3 linked regions of the Homo sapiens genome follow. The protein of the gene in region 1 purifies or fractionates together with the protein of each later gene. This does not show direct contact. Each region holds a gene or a part of one and is shown in the gene's direction. Other genes may lie near its edges.

What was found.
Region 2: the proteins of NSA2 (region 1) and RPF2 purify together in Homo sapiens (affinity purification with mass spectrometry; 4 studies listed by BioGRID and IntAct, with this or other methods). This does not show direct contact.
Region 3: the proteins of NSA2 (region 1) and GTPBP4 purify together in Homo sapiens (affinity purification with mass spectrometry; 5 studies listed by BioGRID and IntAct, with this or other methods). This does not show direct contact.

Annotation. Positions count from the first base shown.
Region 1 is NC_000005.10:74,763,251-74,770,258, forward strand, and holds the start of NSA2 (ribosome biogenesis protein NSA2 homolog), read left to right. Parts: upstream 1-3,998; 5' UTR 3,999-4,110; coding exon 4,111-4,113; intron 4,114-5,680; coding exon 5,681-5,868; intron 5,869-5,963; coding exon 5,964-6,114; intron 6,115-7,008. Other genes in the region: GFM2 (ribosome-releasing factor 2, mitochondrial), read right to left, coding at 430-516, 1,785-1,856. UniProt on the Homo sapiens protein: Involved in the biogenesis of the 60S ribosomal subunit. May play a part in the quality control of pre-60S particles.
Region 2 is NC_000006.12:111,020,013-111,027,037, forward strand, and holds part of RPF2 (ribosome production factor 2 homolog), read left to right. Parts: intron 1-4,170; coding exon 4,171-4,315; intron 4,316-5,390; coding exon 5,391-5,570; 3' UTR 5,571-7,025. UniProt on the Homo sapiens protein: Involved in ribosomal large subunit assembly. May regulate the localization of the 5S RNP/5S ribonucleoprotein particle to the nucleolus.
Region 3 is NC_000010.11:983,974-991,433, forward strand, and holds the start of GTPBP4 (GTP-binding protein 4), read left to right. Parts: upstream 1-4,460; 5' UTR 4,461-4,506; coding exon 4,507-4,554; exon of another isoform or gene 4,555-4,975; intron 4,976-7,460. UniProt on the Homo sapiens protein: Involved in the biogenesis of the 60S ribosomal subunit. Acts as a TP53 repressor, preventing TP53 stabilization and cell cycle arrest.

The DNA of each region.
Region 1 (7,008 bases):
TTGTATCAACCATTGTATAATTATGTTGTACTTTGATATTAACAGAAACTTTATTTCATAAGAGTCTCAATCCATGGATACTTAATATTACAAAGCACATTATTTGTTAGTAGTTTAAAGATGTGCATTAAGTGATGACATTCTTAGATATAAAACCCTACCCCTCCTTCAAAAACAACTGGCATTTTAGTACTCCATGAGACCAGTATTTAGCTACAGCTGTTCTTTTACTTTTAAATTAAGGTAATTTCCTCTTATATTTCTTAATAAATTAAGGTAATTACTTTCAAATTAGTTTAGCTTGAAGATTTCCAAAGGTTATGACTCAACTAAATTTGGAATCAACAGCTGATGAGATATACTGGGCATTTTAGGCAGTAAAGGAGCTGAGGTTGTTAAAGGACACTTAATTTTATAAGAAATGCTTACATTAATATACACACTGGGTATTGTCTGATGACTCATTGCAAATATCCTCAAGTTGGTCAACATCTTGATCCTCCAAACTGTTACTGTCTGAAAAAATAAATATACAAAATCAAAAAACTAAACTTATGTATTACATGTCAGCAAGGCATATGTAAGTTAGACATATGTAATATGTATGGTAAAATGTATTACTTTTAAAAAGTTGGAACAATATTTTTAGCTACCAAAAATTCAATGCATCATTCAGAAAATGGAAAATTCTGATTAAATATGAGAAATATGGTTTTTAGGTTTAAAATGTCCCTTATTTGTCAATGTAATGTTTAAAGAAAGATATGGCGATACAGTAGAAATCAACTTATTGAAATTACAAAACATTGTATCAACCAAAATGCATTGTTATGTAAATGTATAGAATTAAGCATAAAAAGCTAAGCATCCACATATTAACTTGGTAATTTCTAATTGGCAGTAAAATTTATTGATTCATTTGTATACTCTGATTTTCCTACCATACCATGTAAAAACTAAATCATGTAAAAAATATATAAAAGCAAGTCCTCTTCCTCTCTGATTATAGAAACTAAGCATCTTTAGTTTAAAAACATTTGCTAAATATTCACTATGTTTCAAGTACAATATCAAAGCTATTAGAAATATAAGGACGCAGCTGAGACTGGGGATGCTGGGGAGACAGACAGACCATGTTAAACCAAGCTTGTCCAACCCGTGGCCTGCAGGCCACATGCGGCCCACGATATCTTTATATGCAGCCCAACATAAATTCGTAAACTTTCTTAAAATATTATGAGGTTTTTTTTATTTTTTTTTAGCTCATCAGCTATTGTTAGTTATCATTAGTGATTTTATGTGTGGCCAAAGACAATTCTTCCAGTGTGGCCCAGGGAAACCAAAAGATTAGACACCCCTGTGTTAAACCATTGTGATCCATGTTATTAAGATATGTGAAACCTCATTACTACTCCTAAGTCTGTTCTTTCTGGATCTTAGCTAAGAAACATTCACTACTCTTATTTAGAAAGTCATCTAATACTTACATTTGATTTCCTAAATATATTTGAATCTGTTCCCTTTGTTGTTTTTTTTTTTTTTTTTTTTTTTTTGAGACAGGGTCTTGCCCTGTCACCAAGCCTGGAGTGCAGTGGCTTGATCTCAGCTCCCTGCAACCTCTGCCTCCTGGGTTCAAGCGATTCTCCTGCCTCAGCCTCCCGAGTAGCTGGAACTACAGGCATGTGCCACCACACTTGGCTACTTTTTGTATTTTTAGTAGAGACGGGGTTTCGCCATGTTAGCCAGACTGGTCGTGAACTCCTGACCTCAAGTGATCTACCCACCTCGGCCTCCCAAAGTGCTGGGATTACAGGCGTGAGCCACCATGCCTGGCCTTGAATCCATTCCCTTTTCATTGGTAACGCCAAAGTTCAGGGCCTCATAGTCTCTCCACAGTTGTGACTGTAATAGACATTTTCCTCTTCTTTAACTCAGTGGTTGTCAATAAAAAGATAATTTGCACAACCCAGCCCTCCCCCGCCCAAGCCTATTCGTTCCCATTTATTCAACAAGAATTTACTGTGTGTCTGCCTACCCACTGCTTTCTAGATATCAGCGTTAATGCAGTGAACAAAAGACAACAATCTCTGCCCTCATACTGCCTCTACCGTAGTCAGGGGATACAGACAACAAACAAAAGTAACGAATACAATACATAGTCTCTCCCATGATGATAGGGTGCTGTAGAGAAGAATGAAGCAGGAAGGAGGAATTGGGACAGTTAGAACTGTAAGTAAAGAGATCAAGGAAGGCCTCATTCAAACAGTGACATTTAAGCAAAGACCTGAAGTAGATGAGGGAGGAAATTCGGGGGATTGAGGGACGGCGGGGAGGGGCGCATTAAAGGCAAAGAGATTATATAACGTACTGTACCTAAAATATACAAATGCTAGTTACTATTTCTGGTTTTAAAGAGAATGATGAGATCACCTTAGAAAATGGAGCCTTAAAAAACTGCTTCAAAGGCGGGGCTCGGTGGCTCACGCCTGTAATTCCAGCACTTTGGGAGGCCGAGGCAGGTGGATCACCTGAAGTCAGGAGTTCGAAACCAGCCCGACCAACATGGTGAAACCCCATCTCTACTAAAAATACAAAAATATTAGCTGGGTGTGGTGGCGAGCGCCTATAATTCCAGCTACTTGGGAGGCTGAACCTGGAGAATCGCTTGAACCCGGGAGGCAGAGGTTGCAGTGAGACGAGATGGCGCATTTGCACTCCAGCCTGTGCGACAAGATTGAAACTCCGTCTCAAAACAAAACAAAAACTGCCTCAAAGCCGGGCGCTGTGGCTCAAGCCTGTAATCCCAACACTTTGGGAGGCCGAGGCGGGTGGATCGCTCGTACCCGGGAGTTCGAGACCAGCCTGGGCAACACGGTGAAACCTCATCTCTACAAAAACTACAAAAATCAGCCAGGCTTCGTGGCGCGAGCCTGTAGCTCGCTACTTTTGAGGCTGAGGTCGGAGGATCGCTTGATCCCGGGAGGTCGAGGCTGCGGTGAGCCGAGCTCGTGCCCCTGCACTCCAGCCTGGGCGACTGGGCGAGATGCCGTCTCAAAATACCCATAAAAACAAAAACAAAAACAAAATACTGCCTCAAATACAAGCACTAAGAATTAATGAAAGTATTCTTTTGGTACAGTTCTTTTTGTTCATCAACTGAATCACGCTGCAAGCTGTGAAGTAATTAAGGGAACTTCTGCAACTGTGCAGTAAAAGGGTAAACCTGATAGTGTATTTAAGTAGACGTACTTTCTGGTAGTTAATTACTTCTTGACACTAGGGGGCCACTAAATACAAGTCCACTCAGCATTTGATTCGGTGCACCAAAATGCCTCAGAAATTTCTGGAATCAGTCCTGTACCTCCAAAAAACCAGAATGTTATCTTCTTCTTTTCTAACAGCTGCAAAGCCCCAGTAGTTCCATTTTTCTGTACACTAAGTTTTCATTCCTCAGTATCCTTCACAATCATGCACACATTACACAGAGTGACCGGAACAAAGATGAGTCGACTTCGCCGAATGATAGAGAAAAACTTCCATACTGAGCGAACACCGAGGGGAGTCCGGAGGCCCTGTTGTCCTCTTCCGTGGCTGGCTGTGTCCGTCGCAGCCTGAAAGGTCAGCGGTACCCAGCGCTGTGACAGGGTCACAGGCGCGCGATGTCTCACAGCTCGGAGCAGTACTCACCTGGCATTAGGCCGCGTGCCGCAGGCCAGCTCTCACCGCTGGGCTCTTGAAGCAGGAGGCGCGAGCCGCGCCAAAGTCTGCAACGGCCTCAAGTCTCGACGCCAGCCTAGGCAAAAGGCAATGTATCTAAACGAAAAGAAAATAGGCTTTCTCCGCTCTACCGCCTCGGGCAGCCACACCTCCACACTTCCGGCGGTGTACCGGCCAAATGCCGCCTGCCAGCAACTTCCGTCCTCCTAGCTAAAAGCGGAAAACAGAGGCTCGGAACCGCTGCGTGGTTCTTGCTCTTCACTCGGCCGTTTTAAAGGGTGACTCTTTCCTGTCCCGGCCTGCGTGGTGTGGGCTTGTGGGTCTTTGAGACCCGAAAATTGAGAGCGTTTTCGCACTCCAGCGGCTGCTCCTGGCGGCTCTGCGGCCGTCACCATGGTAAGGAGGATGCCTCGGACGCTCGCGACACACAGCGTCTGAGTTAGTGGGACCTGAGGACTCTGGGGCGCTGGGGTAGGGGGTGAGCGGTGGTAGGCGGAAATGAGAACTGCCAAGAGAAAAGGATGGTAGACCCGTGGGGTGGGCTCTGAGGAGTGGAAACAACTTCACATTCGAGACACAGACGGTATTTGCCAGAACACAAGCTTTGGAGCAAGATTTTACTCTGTCCTGTTTTCTTTTTTCTTTTTGATCCACCGCTAAGAGTCCTAAAAATTCCTGATTTCACCACAAGCGTGGTTATCAGCCCCAGAGCCTAATGGGAATATGGTTGTCCCTTGTACAGTCTTAGATGTCAGTCCCGCCCCCTTCATTTTACTGCTGAGGAAACTGAAGGCGTCCTTGCCAAAGACCAGACAGCTAATGAATTGCGAAGCCGGGCTTAACGGCCCAGATCTAACTGCCAGGTCCTTTCTCTTTGTGTTACGTCTCTATAATCTGCGTTTCTTTGCAAAATGGCATTCCATACACCCTTCATGTGATTGCTGCAAAGTTTATGTGATAGCAGTTGGTAGCAGCACACCTTGTTGGTTGTTACTTAACATTGCTCTCTGTGCTGGACTTGGCTTTGTATCATTTTTATTTTTGCAGCCTTAAAATACGAATAGACTCACGCCTGGCCGCGTGTTTAAAACGTGTCTAAAATGCAAAAAGCATCCCATACATTGCTGGTGAAAAGAAAAATAATGCACTTTTGGAAAACGGTCTGGCAGTAAACACACGTCCACATGAAGACTTGCATGCAGTTGTTTATTGCAGATTTATTCGTAATCACCCAAAACTGGGAACAACCCTGATACCTATCATCTGGTCAGCGGGTAAACAGTGGTGTATCCATACAATAGCATACTACTCAACAATAAAAAGGATTGAAGTTCCTATACCTGCAGCAAATTGGGTGAATCCCAAAAGCAAGAAACCAGATTCAAAAGGCTATGTACTACTGTTGATCCCTGTTTCATTCTGGGAAAGGCAAAACTGTAGGGATAGGTATCAAACTGAGGGTTGGGAAAGAGGATTGACTTAAAAGTTACATAGGGAATTTTAGGGGGAAATGGAAATTCTTTGTATTTTGATTGTGGTGGTTACAGAACTGTGTAGTTAGGAAAAACTTAGAACTGTATACCTAAAAAGGACAGGTTTTACTGTGTGTAAATTATGCTTCAATAAAACTGACTTAAATTTTTTAAATGTGAAATGAAGGTGTTATTAAAAAAGCAAATTATGTCAAGGAAAAAAGATACTGTAATCAGTTCATCCCTTTTGTGGTCCAGTAGATTTTGGACCATTCCCTAATGAGATTATTAGAGATGTAAGCCCTGATGCCTCATATCATTCAAGACCAAAATTTAACTTACATCATGTGAATAAACTTAATGGTGCAAGAATCATTTAAGTAAGTGAACATTTGGATGAAACAGGGTCTTTGTGCTGTGTAAAAGAAAGCATTTTAGAATAATTGTCAGTACTTTAAAAAATTAAAATAATATTTCTTCCATCATTATAGCCACAGAATGAATATATTGAATTACACCGTAAACGCTATGGATACCGTTTGGATTACCATGAGAAAAAGAGAAAGAAGGAAAGTCGAGAGGCTCATGAACGTTCAAAGAAGGCAAAGAAAATGATTGGTCTGAAGGCTAAGCTTTACCATAAACAGCGTCATGCTGAGAAAATACAAATGAAAAAGACGTAAGTGGTCTCATTTATTTGTCATAACAAGTTAACATCTTTTGAGTAATCATTATTAAAACAGATAATCTTGAATCTTTTTTCCTTCTTGGTAGTATCAAGATGCATGAAAAGAGAAACACCAAACAAAAGAATGATGAAAAGACACCACAGGGAGCAGTACCTGCCTATCTGCTGGACAGAGAGGGACAATCTCGAGCTAAAGTACTTTCCAATATGATTAAACAGAAAAGAAAAGAGAAGGCGGTAAGCAATAACAATTGAAGTCTTTGTTTTGTTTAGGAGAATTACTTAAATTCAAATTTGAGGTTCTTGTTTCTCGGTTTAATTTCAAACATGAAGTACAGCTATTATTCCCATTATTTAGATGTTGAAGTCTTTGTAAATTTAATAAAAAACTTGCTTTCTCATCATAAGGTTTTAAAATTTAAGTTATAAAAAAAATTTATTAGAATGCCATATGAAATTAAAAAGCTGGTAAGGAGTGAATTTCAAATTCAATATTTGTCTTCCTGTTTGAAAACCCACAGTGCTATGCAGTCATAAAGAAAAATACAAATGCTTCTTATTTGTGCTGCCCTGTAGTGCCAAACTTGGTTAAAAAGTAGAATGGTGGAAAACTCCCTGAGTTGTCACAAAAAATGTGGCTTTTTAAAACACCTGTAAATAGATTAGCAGAAATCCAGATAAAAGAATATGCAGTATTTATATTTAAAGAATTATTTTTACTGCCTTACACTATTTCAGTTTTTTCATAGAATTTGCACTCAAGGGAGGCATAAAACATCTGGTGAGGATTTTGTCTTGCTAGTGATCTACAGATCCATCTCGGGAAGAAATACAGAGACATATTAAGAGGTGGAAACACTCTTCCAGTATTATGCTATTAAACATTAGTAAACACATATACTGCTTATAGAAGTCACTATCGGCTGGGCACCGTGACTCACGCCTGTAATCCCAGCACTTTGGGAAGCCAAGGCAGGTGGATCACCTGAGGTCAGGAGTTCAAGACCAGCCTGACCAATGTGGTGAAACCCCACCTCTACTAAAAATACAAAAATTAGCTGGGTGTGGTGGTGTGTGTCTGTAGTCCCAGCTACTCGGGAGGCTAAGACAGGAGAATTGCTTGTACCCAGG
Region 2 (7,025 bases), on another chromosome or scaffold:
CATGCCATTCTCCTGCCTCAGCCTCCCAAGTAGCTGGAACTACTGGCACCCGCCACCACGCCCGGCTAATTTTATTTTTGTATTTTTAGTAGAGACAGGGTTTCACCATGTTAGTCAGGATGGTCTCAATCTCCTGACCTCGTGATCTACCTGCCTTGGCCTCTCAAAGTGCTGAGATTACAGGCATGAGCCACCGCGCCTGACCTGGAACACTTCTTTTTTTGAGGCAGGATCTTGCTGTTGCCCAGGCTGGAGTACAGTGGCATCATCTCAGCTCACTGCAACCTCTGCCTCCCGCATTCAAGCGATTCTCCTGCCTCGGGTGGGTATGTATGCCCTCTGTGTTAAACATAGAGGGGATACAAGGGAGATAAAAATATAACGGTAAAAAATCATTGACAGTAAGAAATGAGTGGTAACAGTAGCCTAAAACTCTTCTGTGTTGAACGGTTTCGCAGAAAGTATTCACTTGTATTTAGTGAAAAGGGTTTATTTGTAAAGAAAGATACAGAGAAAATAAAACAAAATAGAGAATTATCAAGTCAGACTTTAGAGCAAGAATAAACTGGCCCAGCGTGGTGGCTCATGCCTGTAATCCAGTACTTTGGGAGGCCAAGATGGGTGGATCACCTGAGGTCAGGAGTTTGAGACCAGCCTGGCCAACATGGTGAAACCCCGTCTCTACTAAAAATATAAAAATTAGCCGGGCAACATGGTGTGCACCTGTAATCCCAGCTACTCAGGAGGCTGATGCAGGAGAACCCGGGAGGCAGAGGTTGCAGTGAGCCAAGATCGCACCACTGCACTCCAGCCTGGGTGACAGCGAGACTCCATTTCAAAAAAAGAGAAAAAAAAGAATAAACTAGCAGTAAGGCCGGGCACGGTGGCTCATCCCTGTAATCCCAGCAGCCCTTTGGGAGACTGAGGTGGGCAGATCACGAGGTCAGGAGATCGAGACCATCCTGGCTAACACGGTGAAACATCATCTATACTAAAAATACAAAAAATTAGCTGGACATGGTGGCGCATGCCTGTAATCCCAGCTATTCAGGGGGCCAAGGCAGGAGAATTGCTTGAACCACGGAGTCGGAGATTGCAGCGAGCCTAGATTGTGCCACAGCACTCCGGCCTGGTGACAGAGCAAGACTCTGTCTCAAAAAAATAAAAATAAAAACAAAAATAAAAAACTAGCAGTGTAACTATAATACATAGATCCACCAAAAATCTGATTGCTAGAATCACCTTTACACTAGCACGACATCTTTCATAATGAAAAAAAGTTTGAAATTTTAAAATCAGAGACCCTAGTATGTAATTTTGATCACTAGATGTTCCATATGTGCCTTGTAATACTTGTTAGCTATTAATTTGAAATAAAAAATGGACACTGTGATTGAGAGTGAGCTGCTACTTGAAAGAATCACTAAACATGTGGATCAGCTTAGCTTCCAGAGGCTGTGCCACACTTGGGGAGCATTGAGGATGGGAGGAAGGGGTGGTCCAGGGATTCAGCATCACCTCTGAGCCTACTGACCTGGCTCTGAGCTGGGCTCAGCCACGTGACATGGGCAGGTCACCACTTCTCAGGGTCTTTGTTTCTTCCTCTGTAAACTATAGCAATACCATTTAGATAATTCTGAGGTCCCCCTAAGATTGACAGTACTGCTTTATAAGAGTAAAGGGGTACTCATAGATGGGCATATACCAGAAAGTATGTCTGACTTAACTTGGCTCCCCAGGCATTCTTTGGGCTAGCTATACTGTGGAACCCTTTCCCTCGCTCTTACTGCAAATTAGCCCTTATGCAATTTGAAAATGGTAATATTTAATATTCACACACTTTATTTGTGAAGATAAATGAGGTTTATAAAATGGTTTTGAGCTTTTTGGATGAAAGGAACTCTAAACAGGAAATTATATTAATATAACCTTTAACATGATCTTTTGGGTGAATAAATCATAGTGTTATTGACCACTGTTCCTATACATCCTATAGTAATTATTCCTTGTATGTGAGTGACTATTTATATCCGTTGGGAAATTTTATTCACTATGGAGTCAGAGCCATTAATATGAAACAAAATCGTTAGTAATGCCACATGTGCCTTTGCACAATGGTTAGGCCTTATGGGGGGAAATATGCAAAACAAAGTGGTAGCATACTTTGAAAAGCAAACATAACATTCTAATTGAGGAGTTTACTTAATGAAAACAGACTTTCAGCCAGAGAAGTGTATGAGAGGGAGAAAAATGAGGAAATTACAATTTGAACAGTAGTGGTAATGTCACTCTTCCTCAAGAAATAGACAAATAATATTTAAAAATATGTAGAAATTACCAGTTAGCATATCTACCAGCTTGAGCCCATCTGAGAGAGAAAGAACTGGGTTCTGTTTGCAGATAACTAAAAGCTAGAGAATATTTCCTTAAATCAGTTTGATCTTCCAGTAAACATACTCACTGAAATGATTAAGATCAGATCATCTACACAGAAAAGTATGACATTGTACTTAATTCTTTAATGAAATAACAACATAGGTAATTATACATAGTTATTTGGAAATCTTAATTTTATGTACCACTCAAAAAATTCATTAGGACGCTTGTGAATAAAAAGGCACAATATTAAATTATTATATGCACCCTGAAACTATGTACATCTATTATGCATCAATTTTAAAAATTATTTTTAGTTAATTAAAAGGTGCTTCAGTTAATTAAAAGGTGCTTTTGGCAGTGTATAGTAGTACTTGGGTGATTTGAATCTATCGGATATGCCATGAGCTGTTTTGAATTGACAAGTTTTCTAACTAGCTGAAAATTAGCAGTTTTAAGTGGAAGAAAAAATTTTAGTTGAAAATTAAAATACATGTCCCTGATTTCTTTTTTTGTTTGTTTGTTTTTGAGACGGAGTCTCGCCCTGTCGCCCAGACTGGAGTGCAGTGGCGCGATCTCGGCTCACTGCAACCTCCGCCTCCTGGGTTTAAGCGATTCTCCTGCCTCAGCCTCCCGAGTAGCTGGGACTACAGGCATGTGCCACCACGCCTGGCTAATTTTTTGTGTCTTTAGTAGAGATGAGGTTTCACCATGTTGGCCAGCTGGTCTGGAGCTCCTGACCTCAGGTGATCTGCCTGCCTTAGCCTCCCAAAGTGCTGGGACTACAGGCGTGAGCCACCACGCCTGGCTGCTCCACCATCACTTTATCCTGCCTGTATTCCCCAGTTCTCCTCCACCAGTGTTTCCAGATCCAGAGCTGTTTAGACATAGGGTATTCAGAAAGTTGTGGTTTTGTTATTTTAAGATTTTAAAGTTCACTTCAATGTAAGGAAGTTAGTAAATGTCTGTGCTATGAGGAAAAGTTGATTCTGAATGGGTTGGTTTAACTCCTACAGTCTTAGATAAGAACTTGTTAATCGTATAAACATACTGTTTCAAAGAAAAAGCCAATTATAATTACTTTTATACATACATAAATCTATGAGTAAGATGAAGAAGTCAAATCAAAGGATTTTATTTCATTTCTGAGAATAATTTTGTATCTCACTTGCTGTTTCTCAATAATATTGTATAATTTTATTTCTGATTTTTAAAAATAAGCAAACTGCCCTTGACCTCAAAGAGAAAAAAAAAATTTTTAATTTGATATTTGTGTGACCCTTTAGCTCAAAAAGGGATAAAAGACTTATAAAGAAAAGCCGGGCATGGTGGCTCATGCCTGTAATCCCAGTACTTTGGGAGGCCGAGGCAGGAGGATCATGAGGTCAGGAGAGCGAGACCATCCTGGCTAACACGGTGAAACCCCATCTCTACTAAAAATACAAAAAAATTAGCCAGGTGTGGTGGCGGGTGCCTGTAGTCCCAGCTACTCGGGAGGCTGAGGCAGGAGAATGGCGTGAACCTGGGAGGTGGAGCTTACAGTGAGCCAAGATCGCGCCACTGCACTCCAGCCTGGGGACAGAGCGAGACTCCGTCTCAAAAAAAAAAAAATTTATAAAAGAAGATGTGAACCAAAGGATATACTTGGCTTGAATAGTATTAAGTATTTAAGTAAGTCTTTCTAAACATTTTATATCATTTAATGGAATTGTAAATCCCCTGAACAAAAAATATTTGGTGGAGAGGACTTTTATGAAAGTCAAAGCAACATTTCTTTTTACCTATTTCCTAAAGGTTGCTGTTGAAGAAATCTGGTTGCAGAACACCACGGATTGAATTGGAAGAGATGGGACCCTCATTGGATCTGGTTCTGAGGAGGACACACCTGGCATCGGATGACCTTTATAAATTATCTATGAAAATGCCAAAAGCTCTCAAGGTATATAACTTAGAGCTTGGTACCACATTTATTTGTATTTTCTACTTTAATCCTTTTTCTTTCCAAAAAGAATTTGTGGCATATTATATTAAAAGACAAGGACAGGCCAGGCGCGGTGGCTCACGCCTGTAATCCCAGCACTTTGGGAGGCCGAAGTGGGTGGATCACAAGGTCAGGAGATCGAGACCATCCTGGCTAATACAGTGAAACCCCGTCTCTATGAAAAATACAAAAAATTAGCTGGGCGTGGTAGCGGGCGCCTGTAGTCCCAGCTACTTGGGAGGCTGAGGCAGGAGAATGGCGTGAACCGGGGAGGTGGAGCTTGCAGTGAGCAGAGATCACGCCATTGCACTCCAGCGTGGGTGACAGAGTGAGCCAAAAAAAAAAAAAAAAGACAAGGACATATATAAAGAGATCAATACAATAGATTAAACTAGGACTCACAGAGCCAGGAAAAGGAGAGAGAACCAAATAAGCCAACAATAAGGGATAATAAAAAAAGAGTTGCAAAACCCAGACATGAGGTTTGGCTAAGTGCCTTCTGATAGTCAAGACTGTTGTTTTCAGCAAAAGAAAGAGAGTTGTTTGGTACACTGTAAAGGCTAAGGATTTAGAGTACAGGGTATATAAACCATATGTGCATAAAATGTGTTTTGACTTTTTAAGTAGTTTTAAAAGACAAGAAGAAATGTAATCTCTAAAATGCCAATAGAAATTGAAACAATAGTCACAACTTCTTAAGCTAAACACAGGCTATTTTCTTGATGTGTGACAGTGGTTAGTGTAGTTTATAGTTTTGTTTTTCAAAGTGTGGCCTGACAGTTTACCTGGGAATTGTGCAGAATATCAGGCCCTACCCTAGACATACTGAATTAGGATCTGTATTTTAGCAAGATCCCAAGTGATTTGTATGCACACTTAAGTTTGAGAAGAAAAGTGTATAGGGCTATATACTGTGTCACTGAAGGGGCAGGCACTAATGGAAATTGCTACTAAGATAGTTGTTACAGACTAGATTTTTACTGGCTCATTATAGTAGAAGGCCATTAAATATATACATATTCTTTTATCGTAGCCAAAGAAGAAGAAAAATATTTCCCATGATACTTTTGGTACAACTTATGGAAGGATTCATATGCAGAAGCAAGACCTAAGCAAACTACAAACCAGGAAAATGAAGGGGTTGAAGAAGCGACCTGCAGAAAGGATAACAGAAGACCACGAGAAAAAGTCAAAAAGAATTAAAAAAAATTGATGGAACTTAGCCAGCCACTACTGTTTCATTGTGTTCTACTTAAGAGAATTATCAAGCGTCAATCCATTCAGAGTTTCTTATAAGATCTTATTATATATTTTTATAACATGATAATTTTACGATATATTATTATGAACAGTAATATACTAGTATTAAGTGTAAAGTAAGCCTTTTATTTGAGACATTACACCCTGGTGTGCCATTTTCTCTTGTGATATCCCCTGCCCTCCACAAATTCTTCTTTCTCATTGGGTGGATGGATGGGTGAGGAGGGATCTCCATAACCATTGGGATTTTTTTGAATTTCTGGCCTTAGCTAAAGAAAGCCACAGAAAGCCGGACCCGCAGGAGCTGTGTAAACAATCTCAGTATGAATTACCTGGAAAGTTAACCTCCTCTCCCAACATGGATCTACATTCTGATTTTTATTTTCTACTTTTATTTTGCCTGAAATCCTACTCGTTGACATTTGAGATTTTAAGCTTTGTGGCTGAAAATATATAGATCTCTGAGAGGGATGTCTGCTATCTGATTATTGATAAATTACACTACTGTTGATTGTTTTAAGAGACTCTACTACTAAGTAGAGCCCACCCCGCTTCTCTGAGACGAAACCTGTGTTTTTTGGTTGGTTTGTTTTTAAGAGATGGGGTCTTGTTCTGTCACCTAGGGTGGAGTGCAGTGGCACAATCACAGCTCACTGCAGCCCTGAACTCCTGGGCTCAAGTAATCCTCCTGCCTGAGCCTCTTACGTAGCTGGGATTACAGGCATGAGCCACTGAGCCCTACTTTTTTTTTTTAAAGCAATGAGGTCTTGCTGTGTTGCCCAGGCTGGACTCAAATTCCTGGGCTCAAGTGATCCTCCCACTTCACCTTCCTGAGCAGCCGGAACTACAGATGTTGGTCCACTGCACCTGGCAGAAAAGAAGTTTTGATAGGGGCAGAAATGAAAAAGGAGAAAACAGGTGAGTTTTAAGGTGCAGGGCACTTTAGGGTACTGGGTAGCCCTAGGTAGCTAAAGGTTGCATGAAGGCCCTGGGCGTTTGCAGATGGTGTAGAAGCCAGCCAAAGCCTAACTACTTGTTTTGAAAGTTTCTTGAAGACAGGCCTTGTGCCTAGGAAAACAGAAGCTTTCTTCTTCCTTCTACTAGTATTGCATACTTGTTTTTCTGGAATAGGGTGTTAAGTTCCTTGATTCAGTCCTTGACAAGGAATCTCCTTTATACAAGTGCCAGTAATGTTGTAAAGGTACAGACATACGCAAATCATAATTTGTTACATGAAGTACCAGTGCTTTCTTTTTTGTTGTTTTTTGAGACAGAGTCTCGCTCTGTCGCTCAGGCTGGAGTGCAGTGGCGCGATTTCAGTTCACTGCAACCTCCACCTCCCAGGTTCAAGCATTCTTCTGCCTCAGCCTCCCGAGTAGCTGGGATTACAGGCACCCACCACCACGCC
Region 3 (7,460 bases), on another chromosome or scaffold:
TCTAGAAGTTGGTGGCAGGGCTGGAATTGAAATTTTAAGCCTCCTCCCTCTGGAAAACGGAAATTGCTAAAGCATTATGGTTTCCTTGTGCAGACCTTCAAAATCAATTATTAAACTTGTGACAATGACGTCACATCATCAAAGTGAATTTTTTTCACTGTTTTTAACCTGAGGGTCAGACATCACAACCACCTGCTTAACCAGCTTCCAGAAACACTAAGGATTCAGATGTCTGTTGCAACATGAAACTTGTCTTTGCTTATCTCGAGTATCTTTTTGGGTACAGCACAGAATGCTAATCTTAAGAAATTCTGCCTGCAGATATTTAGAATCATTTGGAAATTGATCATACAAGCATAAGTACATGCATTCCAAATACGTGTATGATTATTATCACAAATCTTCTCTAGGAAAAGAGATCGCAAGATTTCCATTAAACCTAAAATTGTTCCTTTATGGAACAGCAGAATGCAAAGAATGTTTTTAACAGTGTGTCAATAGAATGACTCGTACTCAACCCATAGAAACACCCCTTATCAGCAGCTCTGACGTGAGCAAGGGCAGAAGTTCATTAGCACAGGTGCCTGTCATGATCCACGCACAGGAACGGAATTCTCACAGAAGAAACACAACCTGTCTGCATATGCAAACAGTGCTTTAGTGAAACACAGGTGCTGGGGGATTATTGACAGCATATGACCCCAAGTGCAATCCATCATGTACCTCCATTTAAATACCAAACAATTCATGACCAGCCTGGACAACATGGCGAAATCTCCCCTCTACTAAAAAATACAAAAAGTAGCCAGGTGTGGTGGCATGTACCTGTAGTCCCAGCTACTCGGGAGGCTGAGGCACTTAAATCTGAGAATTGCTTAAACCTGGGAGGTGGAGGTTGCAGTGAGCCAAGATCACACCATTGCACTCCAGCCTAGGCGACAGAGTGAGACCCTGTCTCATAAATAAATAAACAAACAAACAAATACCAAACAAGGTAATAACTCTACAGAGGTCAAGAACAAAGCCACTCTCGGCTGGCAGTGCAAAAGGAGAGTGGCTTTGGAGTTCCATGCGCCCTGAACGCACCTCATTGTGTCTCTCCAGCTGTGTGACGGTGAGCAAGCACTCAACCACCTCAAAGCCAGCACTCTTGTCTGTGAAACAGAGACAATCACACCCACCTCACTATGCTGTCCCGAGAAGAAAGCAAGTGACCTGGCACATGGTGGAGGCTCCCTGCATTGCAGTTGTTAAGGTTCAACGATAATTTAATGAATAGAACAAAAGTTTAGCAAATATTATTGTAACTAAGCAGCTAATAAGAACATAGATAATACATAATGCATAATTAATAATACACAATCTCTTTGCTCACTTATTAATGCCTGTAGAATAGGGTTAGTGAAAAGCTAAAATAATTCACATAAAGTATTTTTAACATGCCTGGTAGATAGTAAGTGAGCAAAGAGTGAAGAAACAGAGGCTTGGGGAAGCTGAGACATTTTCCCAGGATCACAGCGGGTGGAGCTGTATCTCAGAAATGAAGCTCACAGTCTTAACTCACTGTGTAATTCTGCAGAGAATGTCAGGCTGCACCTTTGGCCCGGAGGGTGGCTCTCATGCCATTGCTGCCTTCCACCTAAGGAGGTGTTTCCTTAGACCTCCCTGTTGACAGCTTTCCTCTTTATGGCACAGTGTGGAGTTCTGACCCACTTCAGGGTTGTGCAGAGGGGGTCTGACAGTACTGTAATTCAGTAGGACTACTTGAGTATTGCAGAAGCTTGATTCCAACCGCTACAGCCCCTACATCAGGAACTTACTCAAGCCAACATTCAATCAACGGAGTTCCACAGTCACTGTGAATGCTCTTGGCAGTGCTGCCTGAGGTGAGGGATGGCAAAAAAGTAAGACACAGTTCCTGTCCACGAAGAGCTGGCTACTTCTTTTGGAAACAAGATGTACACAAGGAAGCATCTAGGTACAAAGCAGCATGTGACTCGTTCTGAATGAGTTCCTGTGGGGATCCAGGGAAGTGGCCGACGGGCCCAATGGAGCACTCATAGGACCCTCTAAGACCGGATGCCTACTGATGGCTAATCCCCATGTAAAGGCTCCTTTCAGGCAGGAAGTTCAGTTCTGCAAAATGTACCTTTCATCCATCAGAATTACAGCAACGAGAAGGTAAAACAGAAAAGACCAAACCCACAAAATAAAAAGGTCTGAAAAACAAAGCTTTTTACTGAGAAGTGCCTCGCAGTCAGAAGCTTTGCAGAGTACCCTTGAGAGCATCCTTTACTACAGCTGAGAAGTACCTTTCTGTCACAAGGTACACACTCAGAGGCGTCCTGGCAGCTGGAACCTGCTAATGCAGTCAGGAACTGGCAATGTGCCTCGTACTGCAGGCAGCATTTGCGACACTCCTCAGAAAAGGCCTTTAGAGTTTGGCTTCCCCAGAGAAGCCCAGAAGTGTATGATAAAGAAGCTTGCTCCTAGTGGTGTAGAATACATACTTGCCCCCAAGAAGCTATACTCTGCCACAAAATCACAAGAACAGGCAAGGATGTTGATTCTCATCAACACGCACATGGTGTAAGATGCTTGGTACCTTATCATTGTTATAGCTCTGGGCCCATGATGAGTCATTATGGTTGTGCATTCACAGACATGCCTTTGTAGCTGAACAAGTTAAAAGCAGGTGGCTCATGCCTGTAATCTCTGCACTTTGGGAGGCCAAGGTGGGTGGATCACTTGAGGTCAGGGTTTGAGACCAGCCTGGCTAATATGGTAAAACCCTGTCTCTACTAAAAATACAAAATATTAGCCGGGAGTGGTGGCAGGTGCCTGTAATCCCAGCTACTTGGGAGGCTGAGGCAGGAGAATGGCTTGAACCCTGGAGGCGGAGGTTGCAGTGAGCTGAGATGGCGCCACTGCGCTCCAGCCTGCGCGACAGAGTGAGATTCCGTCTCAAAAAAAAAAAAAAAATTAAAGAAAGGATGTTTGCCCATCTGAAGCAAAGTATTGACTGGACTTATCTAAATACCGGATTACAAGAAAAAGAGGAACTGGCTATATCAGAGTGAGAGAAAGTGGGAGAGGTTGAGGAAACATACAAGAACCTAAAAGAAAGGGCAATAAGTATGAGCATAGCTTTGCTAATCTCGGAAATGGTGGCCAGAACTGTCCTGTGGTTTAGCAAATGATCATAGCCAGCAAATCCTAATTACCCTAGAAGCTTCCTTTAGAAGTGCCACAAAGATGTAGGAGGTATGCTTATCCGCCTTGTGACACAAAAATGGAAGCATAGTTAATAGATGAGAAAAGCATGACCCAGAATGATTTTCAATATTGGAATGCTGGGAATTTATGAGAGGTATTTTCGCGTAAGAATAATAGGACTTGTTTAAAAGGATTGGAGAGTGGGGGGCATCCCAGATGCGTGAGAAGCAGTATAGCTAATGGTTAGAAGCAGGTTTGCTGGAGCCAGGCTGCCTGGGTTCAAAGCCCACCTCTGCTGCCTGTTAGCTTGTCAGCTGCACAACCACGGGGTGCTTTCGAGCCTTGTGTGCCTTTGTTTCCCCATGCACTTCATGAGGCTGTTGCAGAAATTAAACGAGTTAATATATAGTCAGCAGCTCTGAACACTGCTTGACTGAGTCAGCCCTACCTAACGTTTAATTTAAGGGATGTGGCCCTGGGTTCCCAAAGGGAGCGGCCACTCTATTCACAAACATAAAAGCAGTAAAGGCTCCATCCTCATCAACCTTCTCCTCAGTTGGACCCCACAGGACTGTCTCTCGCAACTGTTCCCTGGGCTCTCCTAAGGCACTGCGCGGAACCAGCTGCACCTCTTTTGCCTTAGATCAGGCTTTCCCTTCTCCGCCCGTTTTGGGATTTAACAAGCACGAGAAAGCAGGGCTGCAGGGAAGCCGCGAGGGCCTCCTCACCACGGCCCGGGATCAAGTCCCACGCGCGAGGCCGGGGTAGGGGCGTCATCTGCTCCACACCCAGAGGCTGGGCACGCCCCGCACGCGCGGCTTCCTCCTCCTTTGCGGGGCTCGCCGCGACCCAGGACCCCCAGACTCCCGGATCCCCTAGACCCTCTGGACTCCTAAGCCCCGCAACTCCCAAATCCCAAGACCCCGGACCCTCCAACCCTGGCCCAGGGCGCGTGGCTGGGGGCCTGAACCCGCTCCAGAAACCCGCAGGGCAGTCTGTCGGAAACCCCCGCTTTACTCAGCAGGAATTTAGTCTCCGCGCTCCCCCTAAAACCCGGGCGTCCTCTCCTCTGTACCCTCGCTCCTGAGGCCCTCACACGCCCTCCGTGGCTGACCTCCAAGCCGGGCGGGTGCGCTGTGCGACGCGGAAAGCGCCGTAGAGCACGCAGAACACGATTGGCTGAGCTCCCGGAAGTGACGTACCTCAACCGCCCGACAGTGGAAGTCCCACCTGCGCCCGACGGCGGAAGTTCCGGGAGTGCCAAGTACCCGCGTGCATACGGCTGCCGGCATGGCACATTACAACTTCAAGAAAATTACGGTGGTGCCGTCCGCCAAGGTAGGCGGCCCCGGGAGGGCCACTGCAACTTTCGCGTTCTCCTCAGCTGGGTCCCCGGGGAGGGTCCGGGCCTGTAGCCGTGGGAGAGCGGTCGCCTTCCGCTCGCCCATCCCCCGCTCCTGGGCCTGACCGTCTGGCCGCGTACTCGGGATCATTTCCCCTCCCCCAGCAGAATCCGGGGTCCACCAGAGATCGGATCCCCCAGAGACCGGGGTCCACCTAAGACCGTGGTCCACCCAAAGACTGAGGGCCCCCAGAGATGGGGGTACACCCAGAGTTGGGTTCCCTGGAGGGGCCCCGGGTGACGATGTGGGCGAGTGGAGGGGGACCCCGACATGTGAGGGAGGAAGCGTTCCGTGGTCCGTGATGAGCCTTCGGATTCTGGGTTTGGCGTAGCCCCCTCCCCTCTCAGGAATCCTGGGTTCGTTGTTCTCGTGATTTAACGTTTCATAATTTTTAAGTCATTCTCTTTCACTGTTAGATTTGGGAATACCTGTTCCTTTTCAGACCATAGTAGGCCCAGACTAAATTTTTACAGCGTTGGTTGGTGTGGCAAGAATGAGTCAACAAGTGTTGAGTATTAGGACTTTTTTTTTTTTTTTTTTTTTTTGAGACATAGTTTTTCGCTCTTGTTTCCCAGGCTGGAGCGCAGTCTCGGCTCACTGCAACCTCCACCTCCCGCGTTCAAGCGATTCTCCTGCTTCAGCCTCCCGAGTAACAGGGATTACAGTCGTGCACCACCACACCCAGCTAATTTTCGTATTTTTAGTAGAGACGGGGTTTCACCACGTTGGCCAAGCTGGCCTCGAACTCCTGATCCCGGGTGATCCTCCCGCCCCGGCCTCCCAAAGTGCTGGAATTACAGGCGTGAGCCACTGCGCCCGGCCCTAGTATTAGGACTTTTAAGAAGTCACGTTTTTATGTAGTGAACATTCGATTTGGGTCGCAATTACACAGACATTGACGGGCAACTGGAGCCTCCCAGGGACTCCTGCACGAGAGGGAGTTACTGAAGTCCCTGCAGAGTGACTGTTTTCCCCTCGTCAGTGCCTCCTTTTCTTCAGGTCTCAAGGACGGGATGAGCTTGCCTTGGAAAGCTTTGTGGGAGTCTCGTATTTTACCTTCATAGCAAAAGTTGTTTCCCCACTTCTCTCCACCATTTCTTATTTCTTCCTGACAGTTGTTCTGGCACATCTCTTGATCGATTGTAGTATTTTCTTTCTTTCTTTTTGAGATGGAGTCTCGCTCTGTTGGCCAGGTTGGAGCGCAGTGGTGTGATCCTGACTGCAGCCACCGCCTCCCAGGTTCAAGTGATTTTCCTGCCTCAGCCTCCCGAGTAGCTGGGACTACAGGCATGCGCCACCAGGCCTGGCTAATTTTTGTATTTTCAGTAGAAGTGGAGTTTCACCATGTTGGCCAGACTGGTCTTGAACTCCTAATCTCAAGTGATTCACTTGCCTCAGCCTCCCAAAGTGTTAGGATTACAGGCATGAGCTACTGTGCCCAGCCAGATTGTAGTATTTTCGAGTGCAGGAGTCATGTCTTATTTGTATTTTTGGTCAACCATCTCTCAGGTTTGTTGAAGGAATTTGCTCTTTGGATTATATGAACTTTGTTCATGTTATTGACTTATGTGGAGAACTTTAGAATATATTATACACCATCCGTCTTCTGTTCTGTGGAGTGAGATTTATATTTTTAGAGAACAGATGACTTATCTAAAAACTGGGTGATGGTAATTGTTTGGTGATTGGAAGTAAAAAAAAAAAATCACATCGGGAAAGTGTGGTATTCAGTTCATTCTAGAAGATGTTGAGTGAGTGCCTGTCCTGTGCATCGGGTACTGTGTTACAAAAATGCATTAGATAAAATACCTGCCTCTTTGGAAGTCATTTTCAAGAGAGGTAAGTCGAGGCCGGGTGCGGTGGCTCTCGCCTGTAATCCCAGCACTTTGGGAGGCTGAGGCGGGCAAATCACGAGGTCAGGAGATCGAGACCATCCTGGCTAACACGGTGAAACCCCGTCTCTACTAAAAATACAGAAAAATTAGCCAGGCGTGGTGGCGGGCGCCTGTAGTCCCAGCTGCTGGGGAGGCTGAGGCAGGAGAATGGTGTGAACTGAACCCAGGAGGCAGAGCTTGCAGTGAACCGAGATCGCGCCACTGCACTCCAGCCTGGGCAACAGAGCAAGACTCCATCTCAAAAAAAAAAAAAAAAAAAAGTGGGGTAAGTCATATCTCGTATGACCATACTAGAAATAAAACATTGTTATCATGGAGGACACACATGGATTGGGAGAGGAGAAGAGTGTGGTTAGCTGTGGTAAGTTGGAGAGTCAGGGGGAACCTTATGAAGTAGGTAACCTTTGACTTGGTCCCCCTTCAGGATGTGCGAACGGCATTAGGTGCAGAAGAACGTAGAGAAGATCTTGTGTGGGCCCAGAGGGGAGACCGTGTGTGCCCCTCATAGTACTTGGCAGACTGTTGTGACCACCCGTTTACTTGTCTCACTTGTAGGCCCAGAGGGGAGACAGTGTGTGCCCCTTATAGTACTTGGCAGACTGTTGTGACCACCCATTTACTTGTCTCACTTGTAGGCCCAGAGGGGAGACTGGGCGTGCCCCTCATAGTACAATACTTGGCAGACTGTGTTGTGCCCACCTGTTTACTTCTGTCACTGGACCCTGAATTCCGTGAAGGAAGGGACAGTATCTTGTTCATTATCCTCAGCACCCAAGTATCCCTAACAACCTTTGTATGAAATAATATTGAGTTAATCAAATTGTTGAATTAATCAAAGTGTTCAAGAAAAAAGGTCAAGTAATATTGTGTGGCTAGATACATTGGATTTAGGAATCCTGGGGATCGGATCCTTATTAAAGAGAAGTGCTGACTCTTTGCACTGGGT